2 separate regions of the Homo sapiens genome follow, and region 1 is linked to region 2. The links come from fine-mapping of genetic effects on gene expression. A gene starts in region 2. The other region holds a variant in brackets. All regions are shown on one strand. Distances are between the middles of the regions. Region 1 has its middle 7.3 kb from the start of BEX1. Region 2 holds the start of NXF3 (nuclear RNA export factor 3).

What was found. PIP is the estimated chance that this variant, and not a neighbour inherited with it, causes the effect. A credible set is the group of variants that fine-mapping cannot tell apart.
Region 1: its variant is the best candidate, but not a certain one, in a credible set for the expression of NXF3 in whole blood (GTEx, PIP 0.71).

The regions. Positions count from the first base shown.
Region 1 is chrX:103,051,187-103,062,640 of GRCh38, forward strand. No RefSeq gene overlaps it. Among named protein-coding and RNA genes, the nearest start is that of BEX1, 7.3 kb to the right of the region's middle. The variant C/A (reference allele first, on the strand shown) is at 6,202.
Region 2 is chrX:103,087,926-103,099,379 of GRCh38, forward strand. It overlaps NXF3 (nuclear RNA export factor 3), which reads right to left and starts at 5,218. Exons shown (of 20, transcript NM_022052.2): 1 at 5,071-5,218. The coding sequence starts at 5,098. It also overlaps the pseudogene LOC100128601.

The sequences.
Region 1 (11,454 bases), 37 kb before region 2:
AGATAAAGAGAGAGAGAGTGAGTCCCGGCCAGAGTCTATCCCATTCCCGGGTTTCAGCACCAGAATGTAAGGTCAGCCAAGAGAAAGGAGGAATAGACCCAAATTCAGGCAAGTACGTTTATTGAACCTGCTGGCTACTCCACTACAGACAGAGAAGGCAGCTCTGAGCTTACAAAATGAGAGATTTATATGGGGAAGAGAGACCCTGGGGTTGTTTGCTGGTTAATTTTGCCACATATCACCTTGTGACGTTTATTACAGGGGTGTAGGTAAAGTTTGTTTATGCTTCCCACGACCTCCCCTGGTGCGGTCCGGATGGTTTATAATTGGGGTTTGTTTATTGCAGCAAGGTCTGATAAGTGATGCTGGCTTCACTGCAGCGCCTGGATAAGGGCATAGAAATGTAAAGAGGCTTGGGGGAAGGAGAAGAGTTGCAGAGTGTAGGGGAAGGGACGGGCAGCACGGAGAGGTTTGGGGGAAGTGTTGGCAGTACCAAGAAGTTTTTTGGGGCAGCTTGTCCCTAACAGTAGGCATGATATTTAAGATGAGTCCTAAAGAGTAAATAGTTGTTAGCCAGGGCAGGAGTGTGGTTAGCCTCCCAGGAGAAACAGCAAATGCACAGGCTCTAAGGCAGGAAAGTCCTCAGCCCATTTAGAACTAAAGGAAAGCAGTGTCGCTGGAGCTTAGCAATGAAGGGAAAGAGTACCTGTGTCAGAGTAGTGGCCAAGAGCCAGATCTTACAGGGCCTGAAGGGTTTTATTTTTTTTTAACTACCTGAATGCAACAGAGGCATTTATTGGATATAATGAGGGGAGGTGTATGCTCTAATTATCTTGTAAAATGTTCTGGCTGGGTGCAATGCCTCACGCCCATAATCCCAGCACTTTAGGAGGCCAAGGCAGGCAGATCACGAGGTCAGGAGATCAAGACCATCCTGTCCAACATGGTGAAACCTCATCTCTACTAAAATACAAAAAAAGTTGGCCGGGTGTGGTGGCACACACCTGTAGTCCCAGCTACTCAGGAGGCTGACACAGGGGAATCGCTTGAACCCAGGAGGCAGAGGTTGCAGTGAGCCGAGATCGCGCCACTGCACTCCAGACTGGTGGAAGAGTGAGACTCTTTCTCAAAGAAAAAAAAAATGTTCCTTGGATTGCCATATAGAGACTGGATTGGAGAAGGGTAAGAGGAGAAACCGAAAGACCAGTTCACTGATTATTCAGTGGCCTAAGATCTGTGATAGATACAAAACAATTATGAAACATAATTTAAGGCATCATGGGGTGTGGGTGGGAGCAGAACATGGGATGCCTGTGCAGGTCCACTGTTGCATGTAACAACTGCTGGGGAAAAAAAATTGAAAAATTATGGGGTCCTGTCAGCCCAATAAAAGTCTGAGAAGGGGAGTATCTGTAGAGCCAGAGAAGTTATTGTGAGGAAGATGAATCTGGGTCTGATCTAGAAAGGTGGATTGGATTGGAGGGTTTTTTTTTTGTTTGTTTCCCTTTGTTGTTGTTGTTTGAGATGTTCTGGAAAGGGCTAGTGAAGTAAAGAGAGTAACCTGGCCTAAGAAGTGAACAAACAGTGCCCAGTGGAAGCCTTTGCAAACCTCAGCAAGATTCAAAGCTGAGACAACCAAAGTGTTTGTTTTTCAGGGATGTTGTGCAACAACATTCAATGCTGACTTTCTATCTACTCCTGGAAGGAGAGGGATGCCCAACATGGTCCACAGAGCAGGGCAAGATTATGGGAAGGGAGGTGCTGTGTATGTGATAAGAGTAACAACTCTAAAGAATGTATCTATTTGCAGTTCTCCTCACTTGATTCTGTTCCTCAGTGACTGGTTTTGTGGGCATCCTGTGGGCACAGACCCACATGATTTCCCCTTAGCTCTAGTGAATGGCCTTGTCAGAGCTGGTACTCTGAAAAATGCTCCTTGTTCCGGTTTTAACCCCAGGGATCCAGGGATCCCTCAGATTTTTGTCCATTGGGGAGCTTTTATTGAGTCATATTATTTAGCCTCTCTCTCTCTCTCTCTCTGGATCCTCTATTTTTTTTTCTCTCCTCCCCTGGGTGTTGGCACTTTCTGGATTGCCTCAGTTATTTAAGCCCCGCTTCCTTTCCTTCCAAAGATTATTCAGCATGTCTTCTTTCTGTCTTTCACCTCCCACCAGGTCCTCTTGGAGTCCATAGTGTCCTCAGCCATTCCTATGTTTGAGGCTCCCAGTGTCATCTATACCTACCTAACATGAATTTCCCTCTTCCTGCCTAACAGAACTCCAAATATCTGGATGTCAATGCCATCCCACTTCACCACAAGCTTCAGAGGACAGGTCCTAGTTATTCTGAACCTGTCAATACCTGGAATTTACCTAAGGGCCATTACTGGTTGAGGGTGGCCAATCCTCTTAAAATGGCCTGATCATATTGAAGGGATGGCATTTTATTCCATAGTTAGGAAAGGTTTTCCCCTCTCTCCTGAGGGACAGAAACAAAGAAGAATGTACACTCTATCACAATAAACAGCCATCTTGTTACATTAGGGATAATTCCAGCCTTAGGATGAAGCTGACACCAGGCATAGCAGAAGCTGACCAGAAATGGAAGGAACCTGGATCCTTAACGACTTCATTTAGTTACTGAATCAATGGCCCCTGATGCCTGTCCTACCTACCTGTGCTCTTCCTGCTATGTGAGATCACAAACTTCCTTAATAGTTAAGCTAGTTCGAGGGGATTATTTTTTATATACAGCTAAAACTCCCTATGCAATATAATTGATATAACAACATTGCCTAAAAAGTTTTCCATTTCATTCTGCTCAGAACTACTCCATTATTTATAATGGCTGTATAGTTTTTCCAAGTATTATTTCATCTTAATGTACTAATCTTTCCCATTATTTCTAAGCATTAAAGTCTTATTGAGTTTTTTGGTTTTTCAAAAGTGCTAAAATAAACATCCTATTATTGCATATATTTACATTCTTGCACACTTGGATATTTTCAAAGCCCAGATACAAATTATTTGTATGACTACTCACTTGTGATATAGTACAGTAATAGGCATAGAATTTCTAGGTTATAGATATTCTTTTAATACTTATTTCCAAGCCACCTTCCAGAAATGTTGTACCAGTTCTCATTCTCACCAGCACCGTATAAAATTGCCCATTTTTCTGAACCCTCATCTCTAGGTATGAATAATTAATAATGTCATGGATTCAGAAGTCAGACTGTCTATGTTCAACTCCAGCCTCACAAGTATAAAGTAATGTGGCTTTGAATATGTGGTCCAATCTCCTTATAATAGCATCTGTAAGCAATTTATATGGTTAGGGAAATTGAATGAGTAAGGCGTGTAAAGCACTTAGATCATAAGTTGTCAATAAATGTTGGCTGATGTTATTATCAAAATTATTTGCCAAGTTAATACTTCAAAATGTTACTTGCTCTCATTTGCATTTCCTTGATTACTAGCTGATGTGGACTGAATGTTTGTGTTTCCCCAAAATTAGTATGTTCAAGCCCTAATCCCCAATGTAATGGTATTTGGAGGTAGGATCCTTAGAAGGTACTTAGGATTAGATTAGATCATGAGAGTGAGGCTCTCAGGAGGAGATTAGTGGCCTTATAAAAAGAAAAAGAGTCACAGGATCTCTTTCTCTGCCTGTGAAGATACAGCAAGAAGGAAGCCATCTATAATGCAAGCTGGGAAGAAAACCCTCACTGAACTCAACAATGCTGGCACTCTGACTCCAACCTCCAGACAGTGAGAAGTAAAATTCTGTTGTTTAAGCCACCTAGTCTATGGTATTTTGTTATAGCAGCTTGAGCTAAGATGTGGATGAAATTGATCATTTTTTCCACGTGTCTATTAGTCAGTCATAAAATTTTTTACCTTTCCTTTTTTGTCGTTTTTGATATTTTTATGTTCCCCTTTCCTTGATTGATTTGAATCAATTTACTATATAGTTATAATATTAATCCTTTGTCTTTCCTATATGTAATATTTTTCAGTATTTCATTTGCCTGTTTTTACATTGTACTTATACAAAAGTTTATTTTTTATGTAATAAAATCAGTTATTTTATGTTTAATTTCCTTGAGTCATATGCTGAGAAATGCCTTTAACATACTTGAATTAAATAATTATCTGTACTTTCTCGTACTTTCTCCCAGTTTTGTTATTATTGTACTCAATTTGTTAATCCATTTAACAACTTTGTTTCAAAGAATTCTTAAAGATATTTCAAAAAGATTATGGTTGCTTTTTTTTTTTTTTTTTTTTTTTTTTGAGACGGAGTCTTGCTCTGTCACCCAGGCTGGCGTGCAGTGGTGCGATCTCAGCTCATTGCAAGCTCTGCCTCCCGGGTTCACGCCATTCTCCTGCCTCAGCCTCCCAAGTAGCTAGGACTACAGGCACCCGCCACCAGGCCCAGCTAATTTTTTGTATTTCTAGTAGAGATGGAGTTTCACCGTGTTATCCAGGATGGTCTCGATCTCCTGACCTAGTGATCTGCCTGCCTCGGTCTCCCAAAGTGCTGGGATTACAGGTGTGAACCACCACGCCCAGCCAAGATTATGTTTAAATGTTAAGTGAAAAAGGAACATAAAATGGTATGTACAGTATGATCCAATTTTTATAGAATAAGATTCTATGTATGAATATTTCATGTAGAAAAATCTAAACAAAAAGAAACTGAAATATTTATCAATATTTAGTAGAATTAAGATTTTTAATTTTTTCTTTGTGTTTTCCAAAATGATTGTTTATCATTTTTATCAGACATTTTAAAGTAAGTTTTTTTAATTTTAAAAACATGGTATAGCTTTTAAATGATTTGGAATGGTGCTATTTAATAGAAATATATTATGAGCTACAAATCTAATTTTAAGTTTTGTAGTAAACATAATTTAAAAGTAAAAAGAAACAGATAAAATTAATTTTAATAATATATTTAACACAGTATATCCAAAATGCTATCACTTCAACACATAATCAATATAAAATTACTGATATTTCACTTTATTGTACTATGTCTTTAAAATCCTGTGTGTACTTTATACTTTTAGCACATCTCCAATTGCATTAGTCACTTTTTAAGTTCTCAATAGCCAAATATGGCTCATGGTTACCTTATTGTAAATTGCAGATTTGGAGCATAAAAAGTATTGAATTCCGCATTGGTCTGAATCTCAATCATTTGCTGAACGATTGCTTCATATCACTTTTGAAATGTATTTGATATGAATTAAAGAATACAAATTGAAGTGCCTCTAGGGGCCAGGAAGGTAACTAGGTAATGTAAACAAGCTTTACTTTCTTTAAAGCTGAGTAAGGAAAGTAAAACGGAAACACCTGCCTTTCTAAAGGATTGAAACCACCACTAGGCTACCTCCAGTCAACTGATGCAATGTGGGAATGCAACCCCAGGGTTTACAAAACTCCTGGTTTTTCATGAAAATCTAAAATCTCGATTTTTCCTGTGGAATTTATCAATTTTTAAATATCAGCAGTGATTCAAAAATCATATATCACTGTGTGATACAAACTATGTGCTTGTCAGATTTGATCCTCTTTAGGCCAAATTTTGACATCTGGGATCAATAAATACTTTTTAAAACCCACTAATGTTATTAACTTTTAAAGATTAGACTACCCATTTTTAGTGAATCAAAAGCATTTTTTCATTTTACTGCTTTATAACATTAACAGCTAGCATTTACTGAGAACTTAGTATATGAAGGGCATCTTGCTAAACACTTTCTACATTTCACAGGTAAGAGAAATAAAGGTAAGGGAGGTTGACCAACTTTGTTTAAGGTCACACACGGTACTTGTAAGTGGTGGTGCCAATATTTGAAGTAAGGTCTCCTGACTCCAAAGTCCATGCTTCTACAAACACTCCTTTAAACTGCCTAGGAGTATTCATGTCTAGGTAATCAACCAATCTATCCCTTCCCACCATTACACCTCCCCCACTTTTCACAAACACACACACACGCACACTCTCACACACTTTTCTTGGCCCTTTTGCTCATAAGAGTACTGTATACAGCTGACTTCTGTCTGCCTTGATCTCTTTTTCTTTCATCTTCCCCTCATTTATGCTCATCCTACATCTCCTTTACAACATGTATTTCCTTTTCCCACTTTCATCTTTCATTTTCTTTGCATGGGAATGTTCCTCTTTTAATCA[C/A]ATTGATGAGGGAGGCCTTTAAGCAAGTGGTGTGCTCTTGACAGCAAATTGTGCACATCCCTTCTCAACTCTGCGTTAAGTGACATCATGTTGGTAGCTGGAAATCAACTGTAGCAGGAGCATTTACATAGTGGAAATAGGCTAACACTACAAATAGTTTAATGGAAACTCAGTTGTTAAACATTTATCAATACACAACTGCCTTTGTCCTTGTTAGGACCTCCAATAGAAAGCTTATCTTTATATCTGCCCATCTACATTTCCTTTGGTTCTGTAAATACTGTCTTTTGGAATTCAAACTCTCACTACCTCCTTCAACGATTATATTGATTCATAGCTTGTGTGGTAAATTTTATTCCTTTAACATTCATAAGAATTTTATTTTCTAGTTCTGTTGGAACAGTTTACTATAAATTCCCCATGGAATGAAACTACTTTTTATTCTTTAAAAAAAATCCATTTTAGTACCTCAAGTATCCATTAGTTAATAGCTAATGGATCTGTGCTGAATGCATTTTCTTCACTGGGCTAGTCGAATATTACCGGCAGAACCCCCTTCAGCTCATTCTGCATTGTTTTGTGCCCTGTTTTTGCATCTCTCCTTCTCTCTTAAGCTGCCTCTTACCCTGCACTTATGCCATCTATTTCATAGTTCCTTTCCTTAAAATCTTCTAAAATTTGTCCTTGGTCTTCTAGTTTTGTTTCAGCCCCATGCTGTTTAAAGGATCTCCAAGTCTCTGCTCATGAGAGCATACTATTATTATTATTTTTCTTCCTGAAGCACTTCCATTGCCCCACCTCCATGGGACTACTTCCAGATGACGTTGACTAGATGAACCCAATCTTTTCAGTATCGTATTCACAGATATTTTCCTGCTTTATCCACAGAGATGGAAAATCATGTCTGTTGTCTATCAGATTTACTCATTTATAATGCTCACAGGACATCTTTATTTCCAAAATGTGAGGCCCTGAAGACTCACAAGTTATATCCTCCATGTACAGTCAGTTGTCCCTCAATGTCCATGGGGAACTGGTGTCAGGAACCCCCAGGAATATAAAAATCTGCAGATGCTCAGTTTCTTAAAATAAAATGACATAGAATTTGCCCATAACCTATACACATCCTCCTGTAAACTTTACACAACGTCTAGATTACATTTAATACCTTATACAATGCCTACATATAACTTTGTTAAATGCAGATTCCATGTAGTACTTGGCATATTGCAAATTCAAATTTTTCTTGTTGAAACTTTATAGAATTTGTTTTTCCAAATATTTTTGATCCACGATTGGGTGAATCCATGGATGCGGAACCCACAAATATGAAGGGCCTACTGTATTTATATTAGTCCCCTAAATTTTGTGTGTCTTGAGAAAAAAAAAAATGGCTTCTTGGTGACATACTCCATCCCTTCTTCAATCAAACTGGATAATGAAATGGTTTCTTATGCTTTTTGGTTTATCCTGTTGTCTCAGTCCCATGTTTCCTCTAATAGCACTGTAATACAACTTGTCATTGAAGGTATTTACTCAATGGCAATAGTGAATGGTAATCTTGTAATTTATGCCTGCATCTTTCCGACTTTATCAGCCTGCAGCCAGTTTTTCTTTTTTTTTTTTCTTTTTGAGACAAAGTCTCGCTCTGTCTCCCAGGCTGGAGTGCAATGGCGCGATCTCGGCTCACTGCAACCTCCGCCTCCCGGGTTCAAGCAATTCTCCTGCCTCAGCCTCCTGAGTAGCTGGTATTACAGGCGCCCACCACCACACCCTGCTAGTTTTCATATTTTTAGTAGAGATGGGGTTTCGCCATGTTGGCTAGGCTGGTCTCCAACTCCTGACCCATCTCAGCCTCCCAAAGTGCTGGGATTACAGGCATGAGCCACCATGCAGGTATTTTTTTTCCTTCTAGAGTTAAACAAGTTACTTTGACAAATCTGAGTACATGTAACTATTTGACAAGACTTCTGAAAAATGCAGATATCAGAGTATCAAATGATTGTTTGGGGTTACTCAGTTGTGTGTCACAACCCTTCCTTATCCTCAGACTGTCTTAAATTTTCATTGCATAAACAGACCAGCTTTTCTGTTATCATTTGCTAGACTTTCAGAGTCTGTGACCCCAGACCTATGTTGGATCTGAGGCGTTTTTTCAAACACGCATTCTTTTGTCAGCTTCTCCGTAGAAGGCTTTACATTAGGTGTTTCCTGTTATTTGTAATTTGATGAGGCCAATAGTGTTCCTCAAGCACATAATTTATTTTGTGTTAGTTTACATAGTTTCAGGTTAAAAATTATGAGACCTGGGAGGGCACAGTGGCTCACACCTGTAATCCCAACACTTTGGGAGGCCAAGGCAGGCAGATCACCTGAGGTCAGGAGTTCGAGACCAGCCTGGCCAACATGGTGAAACTCTGTCTCTACTAAAAATACAAAAATTAGCCAGGCATGGTGGCGGGCAACTGTAATCCCAGCTACTTGGGAGGCTGAGACAGCAGAATCATTTGAACCCGGGAGGCAGAGGCTGTAGTGAGCTGAGACTGTCATTGCACTCCAGCCTAGGCAACAAGAGTGAAACTCCATCTCTCTCTCTCTCTCTCTCTCTCTCTCTCTCTCTCTCTCTCTCTATATATATATATATATATATATATATATATATATATATATATAACTACTGAGAATTTGAAGAGTGGACATTAAGAAATTTTTGCCCATTTTTATGTTTGATAATGGTGCTGTGGTTGTTTTAAAACACCATTATCCTTTAGAGACTGTATTAATTATCTATTGTTGTGTAACAAATCACCCCAAAATTTAGCAGCTTACAAGAACGTTCATTTATTATCCCAGAGATTCTGTGAGTCAAAAGTCTGGGTGTGGCTTATCTGGATCCTCCACCTCAGGGTCTTTTAGAAGGCTGCAATCAAGATGTTAGCCTGGGCCACAGTTTTATCTGAAGACTAAGCTGGGCAAGAATCTGCTTCCAAACTCACCTTTGTTGTTTTGGCAGGATTCAATTCCTCGAGGGCTATTAGACTGAGGGCCTGAGTTCCTCACTGGCTGTTGGCTGGCGAACACTCTCAATTCCTTGCTATATGTGCCTCTCCAACATGGCAGCTTGTTTCATCAAAGCCAGCAAAAGTGGGAGGAAGGAGGAAGGAAGAGACAGAATGAATCTGCTAGCAAGATGACAATCACAATCTTCTGTAACATAATCACAGAAGTGACATCCCGTCACTTTTGCTGTATTCTATTGATTAAGACAGTTATTTTACCTGCACTCCATAGGAGGGATAATTACACCAAGGCATGAATACTCTATCCAAGGCTAACATGAAATTTACATATCTCAGTTCTGTCAATGGGAATTTTTATGTGTTTCAATTGCATTTGTAAGCTAACTGAATAGTTCTTTGGATCTGGATCTGTTGTTAGCTTGTATTTCTTCTTAACGTAATCCATGTTAAGAAAAATGCAGTTGAGTACAGAAGAAATCACCTAATATTCCACAAAAGATAATAAAATTCAAATTGTTATGTAATAAATCTAATGCTTTTTTCATGATCTCATCCTTTACATTTTAATGGTTCCCTGAACTGAATTCAGATATTCACCTTTATATTCTGCAAGTTATTATGGCTTTTAAGAACTGATATCAGCTGGGCACGGTGGCTCACGCCTGTAATCCCAGCACTTTGGGAGGCCGAGGTGGGCAGATCACAAGGTCAGGAGATCCAGACCATCCTGGCTAACACGGTGAAACACCATCTCTACTAAAAAATACAAAAAATTAGCCGGGCGTGGTGGCGGGTGCCTGTAGTCCCAGCTACTCAGGAGGCTGAGGCAGGAGAATGGCGTGAACCCGGAAGGCAGAGGTGCAACAGAGCGAGACTCCGTCTCAGAAAAAAAAAAAAAATTGACATCATAGTAAATATTTACATACCAGTAGCCATTTAGACATTAATGTGCATCAGAATCACCAGGAAAGCTTGCTAAAAACAAAAGTTCTGAAGCCCCATTCAGGGGATCTATGTTGGGACCCAAGAACTTTGTATGAATCCACATTTTCAAGAAATCCCCTGGTGATTCTCACACAGGTGGCAGATTAGCATAGTTTTAGAAACACTGTGACATTACTAAATGAACCCAGTGTTCCTTTAGGAATGGCAAGTAATCTAAGTTACACATCCAAAGTTATTTACTTGTTTAGAAACTGAACCGAGACAAAAACTCAGAGCTCCTGACTCAGTCATTATTAATTTTACTTCGGTTAAGTGCCTGCCTCGTCATGAAGAAACCACAGCATGACCAACAGACATTTTATTCCTGAGAATAGGAACTATGCTGGACTAGTGAGACCTACCTTTGAGCACTCTGCTAAACATCTGAAGGGAAAATCTGAGGATGAGAGTCTTGCATAATAGGTGTGGATGGGAGAAAAAACAGGTAAACACAGGTCTCACACAAATGACCTCATTCCAGTCATGTGAAGGAAATGCCACCCCCAACTTATACAAATTCCTGAGTTTATTTACCTGGCTAAGAGATCCAAATTTGATTAGCAAGTATTTTTTTTTTCTTTTTTTAAGAAAACTTTTAGGTTCCAGGGTACATGTGAAGGTTTGTTACATAGGTGAACTTGTGTCATGGGCTGGGGGCAGGTGGGGGGGTGGTTGTTGCACAGATTATTTCATTACCCAGGTATTAAGCCCAGCACCCAATAGTTATCTTTTAGGTTCCTCTTCCCCCTCCCACTCTCCACCCCTACAGATCCCAGTGTGTGTTGTTCCCTTTTTTGTGTTCATGAGTTTTCATTTAGCTCCCACTTATAAATGAGAATATGCAGTATTTGGTTTTCTGTTCCTGCATTAGTTTGCTAAGGATAATAGCCTCCAGCTCTATCCATATTCCCACAACAGACATGATTTCTTTATTTTTATGGCTGCATAATATTCCATGATGTATATGTATATTTACTTTATCCAGTCTCTCACTGATGGACATTTATGTTGATTCCATGTCTTTGCTTTTGTGAGTAGTGCTGATCAGCAAGTATTTATTAAGTGACTCTACTGCCTTCAAAGGTTATTTAAAAATGTTTCCAATTTTTCTTAAATTACAGAAAATATAAAAAATACATTAACCCATCTCATAGAATGAGTCCCTATATTAATCCTTTGGTATATTTAATTTCAGTACTTTTCTTTTCATGTATTAAGTACAATCAATATAAATTTTTAACAAAAAAAG
Region 2 (11,454 bases):
CTCTTTTATTAAAGAAGAGGCATACAGAATATTGCCCCCTGCCTAATAAGTTAAATGCAAATCAGGGTGGTTTTGAAAATGGTGATATTGGTGAATCTGAGTAGAATAATCCACTTTATGTCCACTCAATTTATATTGTCCCTTTTCAATATCCAAAGTGTGAAAATGTTTTGAATCACAGCAGATTCTCAATGAACACATGTGTTTTCCTGCTAGAGGTGGCAAAATTCCAAGCAGGTTCAAAAGAAGCTACAACTATAAAACCATTGTTAAAAAAAATATTGGCCAAGCTTAAACGTGCTAGGAGTAAAAAATTAGATAACTTTTGATCCTAGAAAAAAGTATTTAAAAAGAGATTCTTGAAAAATTGTGATCGTATTTCTGGTGAGCCGTGCTCTGAACAAACCCAAAGAACATTTGTGGGTTCTCTTGGCAAACATGGAACATATAAAACAATTGGCAATAAAAAAAAACATTGACTTTGCGATTTTCTTGGCAAAAGCAGTTCCAGAACCAAAATGTGGGAAAAAAATGAAAGGTATCCTTACTACAGCAAACTTATTAAGCATTGATAATTCAGTGAATAAGAAAGACTTGTCAATCTGTGGCTCATCAGGTGAGGAATTATTTAATAACTGTGAGGTACTTCAGTGTGGTTTTTCAGTTCCAAGGGAAAACATACGTACTAGACATAAGATATGTCTCTGTGACAAATGTGAGAAGGTATTTCCTTCTGTATCCAAACTAAAAAGACACTATTTAGTTCATACTGGACAGAGGCCTTTTTGCTGTTAATATTTGTAGGAAATCTTTTAGACAGTCAGCTCACTTAAAAAGACATGAACAGATTCATAATGAAAAGAGTCCTTATGCATCCCTTTGCCAAGTAGAATTTGGAAACTTGAACAATCTTTCTAATCATCCACGTAATAATGTTAACTATAATGATTCCCAACAATGTCAGGCTCCTGGTGTTCAAAAATACGAGGTCTCAGAGTCAGATCAAATGTCAGGAGTTAAGGCAGACTCACAGGATTTTATTCCTGGTAGCACCAGGCAGCCCTGTCTTCCTAATGTACTTTTGGAATCAGAGCAAAGCCATCCTTTTTGCAGTTATTCAGAACATCAGGAGAAAAATGATGTCTTCCTGTACCGACGCAGTGTTTGTGCTAGGAGTTTCTGATCTCCATCTATACTGGAAAAACACTAACTAATTCATGCAGGGCAGAAACTATTTGAATGCTCAGTTTGTGGCAAAACATTCCGACAGGCTCCTCACTGGAAGAGACATCAACTTACTCAATTTAAAGAACGACCACAAGAGAAACTGGTTGCCTTGGATTCGGTTATGTAAACTGTCACAACCACTAACAATTGTGGTCTCTGGTGATCTTATTTTTAAAGCCTGTATTATTTAAAATGCGTTTTTATCAAGAGGCCTGCATTAAATTGAATGGTTTCACAGGCATTTGTTTGTCCTGCATAGTAAGGAGGTAAAATACATAGAAAATTAATACAATGTTTTAGAAACAGCCAAATTAATTTTTAGAGGCAAGAACATGATTTGATGCTATAAAGTAGGCATTTTAATATTGTAAACATATGCTGTGTCTGTATTGAAAAATATAAATTCATGATGCTGTATAAATAATTTAGTCTCATTCATTTTTAAAGGAATTATTCCTTAAGACATGCCATCTCTTTTTATATATACTCAAAAGACCGAGAGGCAAAAATTGGTTTTTAGCTGCAGCACATATCCCTGCTATATTTCATTTATCTTACATTTCATATGAAAGCATAATTTTGTCCACATGTGGCTCAAATTGCATTGGAAATTTTTTGTAAATTTAAAGAACTACAGAGGCACTAAAGGTGAAAATGGATGAGAAAATTATAGTATTTTTTCATTGGTCTTTTCAAAGCTATTTATTTTTAGGACTATGTGGTAATTTCACTTCTTCAGGTGATTAAGGTTTTTTTTTTCTTTTTTTTTTCCCAGCGAGTGACATCTTTCTCAAAATAATTTAAAAGTAGGCAAGAGGCTAGGATGTATCCATATACATTTACCATGTTTATTTACCAGGAATATTTTCCAAGTGCCATAGTCTTTTTCATAATATGTATGCAGTTTTATCTTTTCAGAGGAATAATTTCAAGTCATTCATTTGCTCATTAATTATAGCAGTAGTCATAGATTTAAGACTCTATTCTAGAGATCTTCATCTCCATAAGACTTTAACATTTATTTTAGTAAACTTTTCTTTTTATGCCTCTTTAATGGAGTGGTCCTATTATTTAAGCCTGTTCTAAGTTTGATCAAATGGCAATGACTAGGTCTAGTTTTAGTTTTTATTTTTGCAAGAGTCTAATGCTAAATAATTTTATTTTGATCCTTGTTAAATTTTTATTTTGATTAGTAAGGTAGTCATTCCTGTAGAGGGATAAGATGCTTGTAGAGTTGTGGGTATCATTCCAAATAGAACTGTTATGATTTGGGAAATATTCTAAACTACAAAGGACTTATTTCATAATGACAAATTGTCCTTCACCTTTGCCTTTGTTTATAAAATCTTCAGGAATGACATTTTCTAGCAATAAAAGGAATTAACCATTATGTTTCTAAGCTGAAAAGAGGAACAGGTGGGTAATTATCCTACCATACTTAAATATAGTGGAAAATCCTCTATTGAGAATGTGGATAAAAGAACAATTGTAAATTTTGCATCATAATCTGAGAACTCCCTTTTGGGGCAGGGGGAGGCGGGAGGGATAGAAGGTGGGGGTGATCTGCTTGCTTCTTTTACCACAGGTGATTTTTAAGTAACTTGGGTTTAATTTACAGAGATGAAACATGGCAGTCTGAGTAAAACACCCAATGATGTAGAAGTGTGCCTGTTTATTACGTAGAGACAGCCAACAAAAACAGAGGAGAATCACATGCTTTAAAAAACACTTTCTCTTAGGTTTCCTTGGGATATGTTCTTCCAGTGCAGGCAAGATAGTGGTTTACAGAATTTGCTTAATACAAAACTTTTCAAGAACTCATCTGTTACACAAAAGCAAGGAATAGCTAGTTTATATTTTCCAATAATGTTCAAGGTTTTCTCCTTATTATGTCTGAAATTATTGATTTTGGCATTTTTCTAAGCAATTTATGTAATTTTATTTGAAGGAAATGTTTTATATACTCTTTTTCCCGACCTAAACAGGGAGAGTCCTAACAGTGTTGTGTTTGTATGATTATGAGGCTTTATTTGCCTAAGTGATGCTACTATACTTTTTTTTTGACCCATGCCTTTTTAAGCTGTTTCATATTGAAAGTTGGAATATTGTAAAAATTTTGTCAAAGATGTACTGAAGTGCTATTTGAAGTACCTATAACAAAACACAGTTGGTCCTCCGTATCCACGGACTCTGCCTCTGTGAATTAAACCAATTGCAGATCAAAAATAATAGGAGAGAAAAATATAAAAATAATACAAATAAAAAATACAATATAACTGTTATTTAAATAGCATTTACATTCCATTAGGTATTAGTCTAGAGATAAAGTATGCAGGAGGATGTGCGCTGGTTATATGCAAGTATGCCACTTTATGTAAGGGACTTGAGTATACTTGGATTTTTGGTATCTGTGGGTGGGCAGGGTAGGGGGGGTCCTGGAACCAATACCCCATGGATACCAAGGGACAACTGTACTTATTTACCTTTATTATTATTGCAAGCTTCTTAAGGAAACTTTATAGGAATGAAAATACACATGTTAAGAAGATTAGGCCAGGCGCGGTGGCTCATGCCTGTAATCCCAGCACTTTGGGAGGCCGAGACAGGTGGATCACGAGGTCAGGAGATCGAGACCATCCTGGCTAACACCGTGAAACCCCGTCTCTACTAAAAATACAAAAAATTAGCCAGGCATGGTGGCGGATGCCTGTAGTCCCAGCTACTCGGGAGGCTGAGGCAGAAGAATGGCGTGAACCCGGGAGGCAGAGCTCGCAGTGAGCCGAGATTGTGCCACTGCACTCCAGCCTGGGCGACACAGCAAGACTCCATCACAAAAAAAAAAAAAAAAAAAAAGAAGAAGATTAAACATTAGATATTAGATGGTCTGTTGCATGCTAGAACTGTTAGTATTGTTGGATCAATTACTTTGGTTTTATGAAAAAATTAATGATAAATATCTTTAAAGAGAACTAGAAGAATTTTTTGTTTGATTCTAGGCTGTAACATGATTATTTACGGACATAGTTTGATTGGCTGGCTAACTTAGTAGAATTAATTGGCTGGCTAACTTAGTAGAATTATTGTTTTTTTTTGTACTGCAATAGGGCTTATAATTGTAAGATAAAAATGTGTGTGTGCTTAAGGGAAGTAAGTGCTGGTTAAAATTATTGAAAAAATTTCAGAATACTTTAAAAATAAAGTTTCAAGTTATACAAAAAAAAAGAAATTCTAAATTTGTATGCATGTCTTAACATGGACCAATCTATGTTTAGATACAAAGCAAAAACTGATCTAAGTAAATAGAGAAATAGTTAAAACCACTGTGATGTGGGAATTTAACACACCTCTCTGAGTAACAGATAAAACTAGCAGACAAAAATTCAGCTACATATAGAAGATTTAAATGGCATGAGTAATAAGTTTGCTTAAATGACATAGAACACTGCACAGAAAACCTTCACATGGAACATTCCAGAATAAGTCATATGCTGGGCCATAAGGCTAGCCTTGATAAATTTCTGGGGCTGGGGTGGGAGGTAATACAATCTACCTTGAATGGTTAGTGTGAAGATTAAAGATGTATTCCCTGCCCCACTACCACCTCTAGTGTACATCCAAGGAATGTTAATTTTTACCAACCCCTGCCTCAGGTGACCCTCCTCATACCTCAAACCCTGGCCCTGAGAAGGCCACAAGACTCAGGCCTGGGCCCTTGCCACTGCCCACCCCCATCTAAAGGGAGATTGGCTGGGTGTTATGTGGGTTAGGGTAAGGTGGGGAAGGGGGCTCAGTCCCTTTTGCCCTGTGAGACCTGAGACTCCAGCCTCATGCTGGCCAACTCACCCGTAGTGTGTCCTGAAGGCAGTGACATTTTACCAATGTCCTTATAGGGCTCTCTTGAGGAGAATCTGTGTGGCCTGGGGACGGGAGTTTGGAGAAGATTGAGGAGGGCTGCTGACGAAGGCGAGAGCAAGCCTCAAGCCTTGCTTACAGGAAGTTCCTTCCCCAAGCATAGAGAGGAGTGTCCTAGGAGTCACAGAATTAACTTCCTGTTCTTACCACTCCCCAAAGTTTGCTGCCAGCCTAACACCCAGGGAGATGTTTCTAATGTAGCCACTCCTGCAAAGGTGGTTAGCAACAATCACAATCATGAGGCCTAGGACCCAGATACTTATTGAAACAAACACGGAAAACTCAGCTTGCTGGTCATCTCCAGTGCATTACATTGTATTCATTTACTCTGCAGACTCAGAGACTCAGAGACTCAGAGTGCCTATGGTAGCTCAAGCTCTGTACTTGCTACATTACTTTTTTCTCCATGTATTCCTCACAAGGGGACTCTCAACTCAGAATCACCAGCTTCCTGAAGGTGCTGAGGCTTAATGAGGTATAGGACCTTGTCTGGAATGATTCAGATGTGACCTGGAGAAACAAAGTGGAAATGAGAACCATGGAATAGTGGGTGACCCCTCTATGCACAGCTTTTCTAAACTCTTATAATATTTGGGGTTTACTTAAGTTAGGGCAAAGTAAGACAATGTTCTGCAAATACTCGTGTGACTGGAATTAACTACAGCCCATCCTAGAGAGAGAATACAAAAAACAGACCAGGAAAATATAAAGTAAAAGTTTAGTGTGTCACTGTAATGAAAGTAGAAAAGAATCAAGTATTGTCTTAAAGACAAAATAAAGTATAGTCAATGTAGATGGATACTCCTAATGATTAGAGCCAGAAATGTAGCTCTTAAAGTCTCAGGCCAGAGAGAGGGAATAAACTAGTGAGAGGTGACAGCTTGCTGGCAGCTCTCACAGCCCTCGCTCGCTCTCGGCACCTCCTCTGCCTGGGCTCCCACTTTGGCGGCACTTGAGGAGCCCTTCAGCCCGCCACTGCACTGTGGGAGCCCCTTCCTGGGCTGGCCGAGGCCAGAGCTGGCTCCCTCAGCTTGCGGGGAGGTGTAGAGGGAGAAGCGCTAGCGGTAACCGGGGCTGCGCGTGGCGCTTGCGGGCCAGCTGGAGTTCTGGGTGGGCGTGGGCTCGGTGGGCCCCACACTCGTAGCAGCCGGCCAGCGCTGCTGCCCTGGGCAATGAGGGGCTTAGCACCTGGGCCAGCAGCTGCTATGCTCAATTTCTCTCCAGGCCTTAGCTGCCTTCCCGCGGGGCAGGGCTCGGGACCTGCAGCCCGCCATGCCTGAGCCTCACCCCCACCCCCGCCTCCGTGGGCTCCTGTGCCGCCCAAGCCTCCCCAACGAGCGCCGCCCCCTGCTGCACGGCGCCCATCTATGAAGGTGGAGCTCTCGTGGCCTAATTACTTCCCTAAAGCCCTACCTCTTAATACTGTTGCACTGGAGATTAAGTTTCAATGTGAATTTTGGAGGAACACAAACACTCAAACCATATCATTTACCGTTTTATAAAAATGTTCACATAATATTGTTTTATAAAAAAAATAAAGATTTAGGCTGGGCATGGTGGCTCACGCCTGCAATCCCAGCACTTTGGGAGGCTGAGGCGGGTGGATCACTTGAGGTCAGCAGTTTGAGACCAGCCTGGCCAACATGGTGAAACCCCCTCTTTACTAAAAAATACTATTAACTGTGGACATCAAGTCTGAAAATAGCCATTATTAAAAACCTGATGAAAGTCTATTATAATAGTGATGCAATTGACAAAAAAATTTGGTTATTTCTGAACCAACATTGTGACTGATAGTATTTATACCAAGACATATCAGAGTTCTAGGAATGTTATACAATTTCGGAACACACATTAATAATATATCCATGTAAATATAACTCAGAGAAGATTAACCATCATTCCTTATTTAGACAGTGCTTCTCATATAAATGAACATATCAGATAAGCTGATGGTGTAATATCTCTTTTACAACTACTTTCAGAAGTTCTAGGGCTTGTCATAATATCCCAAAGTTACTTCAAGGTCAAAAATACTTAATTTTGATATTTGAGAAGTTTGTCAACTATCAGTGGTCTAGAATACTTGATCAAAATAGGATCACAGGTCACTATGAAATAAAATGGAAGTGACAAAAGATTTCACAGGCACAAAGCCCACGAAATTATCTTGATTAAACACAGAATCTCTGTTCCCTAGGCCAGTTACCTAAAAGGTAAAGAAAAACCTCGCACAATTTCCTTTTAAAAACAGCTTAATGTTCTGAGAAAACCCAGTTATTCCAACACAGGAGCCCAAAACCTTGCCTTCACCAGCGCATTTTTTATTAATCGTCAATTTTTGGCAAAACTTTGTATTATTTATAATTAGCTTCTATTTTAGGCAACTTGATGACACAAAAAATTTCTTTCATGAGATTTCTATTCTGTGAACTTTCTATAACTTGCAGTTTACTTTCCTTTTCCCTATATCATTTTGACCACACAAAGTTCTCTTAAGCAAAAGAAAAAATTACTTTTTTCATCTTTCTTTACCAAAACTACATCTTCATACTTATAACTTTTTTTTTAATCTCTTCTGCTTACCAGTTCATTCCCTGCCTTGTTTGTATTTCCTTCTGTAAACCAAAAATAAAATTCTAAGTCCCCTCAACCATCTGAATGGACTTTCTCCTCAGCCAGCGTTCTTAAAATTGAACCTGAGAGACTGTTTTAGGTCATGATGTGAAGTGGGGGTTGAACAGGCCTCATTATACCTCTTCAGCATTAACATCAACATAGGCTTTAAGTCTGATAAGAAATATTTCACAACCTATTCTCTCTGAAGCCTGCTAACTAAAAGCTTCATCTACATAGTAAAACTTTGGTCTCTACAACCTCTTATCACAACCCAGACATTCCTTTCTATTGGTCACAGTTCTTTAGACAACCTCAACGAATTGTCAACCAGAAAATGTTTAAATTTACCTTAAATTTACTGATAGCCTGGAAGCCCCGCCTTGGAATTGTCCCACCTTCCTGGACCAAACCAATGTATTTCTTAAATGTATGTGATTGACGTCTCATGCCTCCCTAAAATGTATAAAACCAAGCTGCACCCTCACCTCCTTGGGCACATGTTCTCAGGACCTCCTGAGGGCTGTGTCAAGGGCCATGGTTGCTCATATTTGGCTCAGAATAAATCCCTTTAAATATTTTAGAGTTTGACACTTTTTGTCGACACTTCCTAAATCTATATTTTGAAATATCCTTTCAAAAACCTCCAAATTAGATGAAATTTGCTCTTTTAACAAAAATATATTCTCATGTCTTTTTACAATTTCTCTTGCCAAAATGAGAGACAGGACTAGCTGGATTTCCTAGGCCGACTAAGAATCCCTAAGCCTAGCTGGGAAGGTGACCGCATCCACCTTTAAACACGGAGCTTGCAACTTAGCTCACACCCGACCAATCAGAGAGCTCACTAAAATGCGAATTAGGCAAAAACAGGAGGTAAAGAAATAGCCAATCATCTATTGCCTGAGAGCACAGCGGGAGGGACAAGGATCGGGATATAAACCCAGGCATTCGAGCCGGCAACGTCAACCCCTTTCGGTCCCCTCCCCTTGTATGGGAGCTCTGTTTTCACTCTATTTCACTCTATTAAATCTTGCAACTGCACTCTTCTGGTCCGTGTTTGTTATGGCTCGAGCTGAGCTTTTGCTCGCCATTCACCACTGCTGTATTGCAGCTGTCGCAGACCCGCTGCTGACTTCCACCCCTCCGGATCCAGCAGGGTGTCCGCTGTGCTCCTGATCTAGCGAGGTGCCCATTACCACTCCCCATCTGGCTAAAGGCTTGCCATTGTTCCCACATGGCTAAGTGCCTGGGTTCGTACTAATCGAGCTGAACACTAGTCACTGGATTCCACGGTTCTTTTCCATGACCCACGACTTCTAATAGAGCTATAACACTCACCGCATGGCCCAAGATTCCATTCCTTGGAATCCGTGAGGCCAAGAACCCCAGGTCAGAGAACATGAGGCTTGCCACCATCTTGGAAGTGGCCTGTTGCCATTTTGGAAGTGGCCCACCACCATCTTGGGAGCTCTGGGAGCAAGGACCCCCAGTAACAAAAACACACCTTACTTTCCTTGTACACTTTACATACATATATTTTTTTTATTTCTAGTAATTTTAATTACATATTTAATTAAAATTTTGAATTCTTAGTAAGCTTATTTTTTATGAAAATGTAAGAAATGGCAATTTGAACTGTCTTATGCCAATATTTTATGAATATACTGAAGAGAATCAAAATATTTCATCCCAAAATATACTTCTTTGACATGTTTTGAGATGGCTATCCAGACAGCCAACTGAGGCAGGGAAATAGGATCTGGAGGTAGGGAACATAAGGCTGATTCACACTTCAGCCATGACAGGAAATATCCTCTCCATAGGGCACAGGCCAAGTAAATGACTTTGTAACTTCATCCTCTCCATTTACATAGGGCATACCCCAAGTAACCAATGGAATCCTCTAGGGGATATTTAAACTCCCAAAAATTCTGTAATGGGGTCTTTGAGCCCCTATGCTCAGGCCCGCTCCCACACTATGGAGTGTACTTTCATTTTCAATAAAACCCTTCATTCCTTCCTTGCTTTGTTTGTGCGTTTTGTCCAATTCCTTGTTCATGACGCCAAGAACCTGGACATCTTCCACCATTAACACAATGAGCAGAAGTAACCCCACAAAACTCTTTTCTTGTGGAAGATTTTGCATCTATAAAGAATCTGCATTGATGCAACCAAAGTTTCTCTGAAGCCCTTCTTTGTCTAGATCTAGGAAAGATTAACTGAGAGTCTGACACCTTAAAGGTCTATGAAAAATATTTATCATCTATTGTTTCTGATGGCTGCTACCTGTCATGTTTCATCTACATAACAAGACAACCTTTGCCAGCCAGGTCTCCACTTCTCTCCCTCCCATAACCCATCTTGCAGCTATAACCTGATTTACCACCACAACCTGTTTTTGGCTATGCTCCAAGTCCCCATTCTTTCTGTAACCTCGAAATAGTATATAAGCTTCCGTACTCCAATAGGGGGCGGGGGGGAATCACTCTGTGATTCTCTCCACGCAAGCCAATAAATGTGCGTGCCATTTCTCCTATTAATCTCCCTCTTGTGAGTTGATTTTTCAGCAAATCTTCACAGAGTGAAGGAGAGGTCTTCCTTTGGCCCCTACAGTTTATTTCATAATTTCTAGAGGCATGTACTTTCTCATAGAACAAATTTTTAAGTGTTTACTAACAGACCCAAATATATTTTGCTTCTCTATACCACATAAAAGCAAGATGCCAACGTATATAAATTTTAAACATGTGATTAGTAATTAATGTTTTAGTATTCTAACTTATTTAGAAATAACCTGAACATTTAATGACTATTTATTACTTAAGGATTTAAGTTACCAAAAAGATTTCTGAAACTATGAAGAGTTCATTTATAAACATTTGTGCCTAATTTACATATTTAATACCTTTTTGTGATCTATAATGTTTGTGATCCTAAATGTCTCAAAATGGAGTCACTTATGACAAGTGACTCAGCTGATAGTGAAACTACTGAGCTCTGAGAGTGATAAGCATATGTATGGTGGAATGAGGTGATAAGATGACACTTGCTGTGGCCAGACACTGTTAGGGGTGGCGAATATTCGTTACTGACAGCTAATCCATACTGGTCTGCAGCAACTGCAGTTCCTGCCTACTCAGAAGAAAGAATTTGACTGAGGGGCATAAGGCAGAAGAAGAGACTGAGGCAAGTTTTAGAGCAGGAGTAGAAGTTTGTTAAAAAGCTCTAGAGCAGGAGTAGAAGTTTGTTAAAAAGCTCTAGAGCAGGAACGAAAGAAAGGAAAGGACACTTGGAAGGGGCCCCAATGGGCAACTTGAAAGACAAGTGCAGCATTTGACCTTTTGACTTGTATATGCTGGACTACTTTTGGTGTCTTGCATCCCTTTCCCTTTATTCTTCCTTTAGGGTGGGCTACCCACATGTACAGTGCCCTCATTGCACTTGGGAGGTGAGCATGTGCAGTGTGTTTACTGCAGTTGTACACATGCTCAACAGAGGCTTTCTTCCCTTTTCCAGTGGAATGCCCCCAGAAGGTCATACTCTGCCTTTTTGTCTCTTAATGTGCATGCCCAGGCTCACTTGCCCAATACCTGAGATTTTACTGGAAGCTGCTGATTACCAATTTCAAGTGTTTTTATCTATTGGGAAATTGCCTCTCCCTGGCACCTGTGACCAATTACATTTTAATGTGACAAC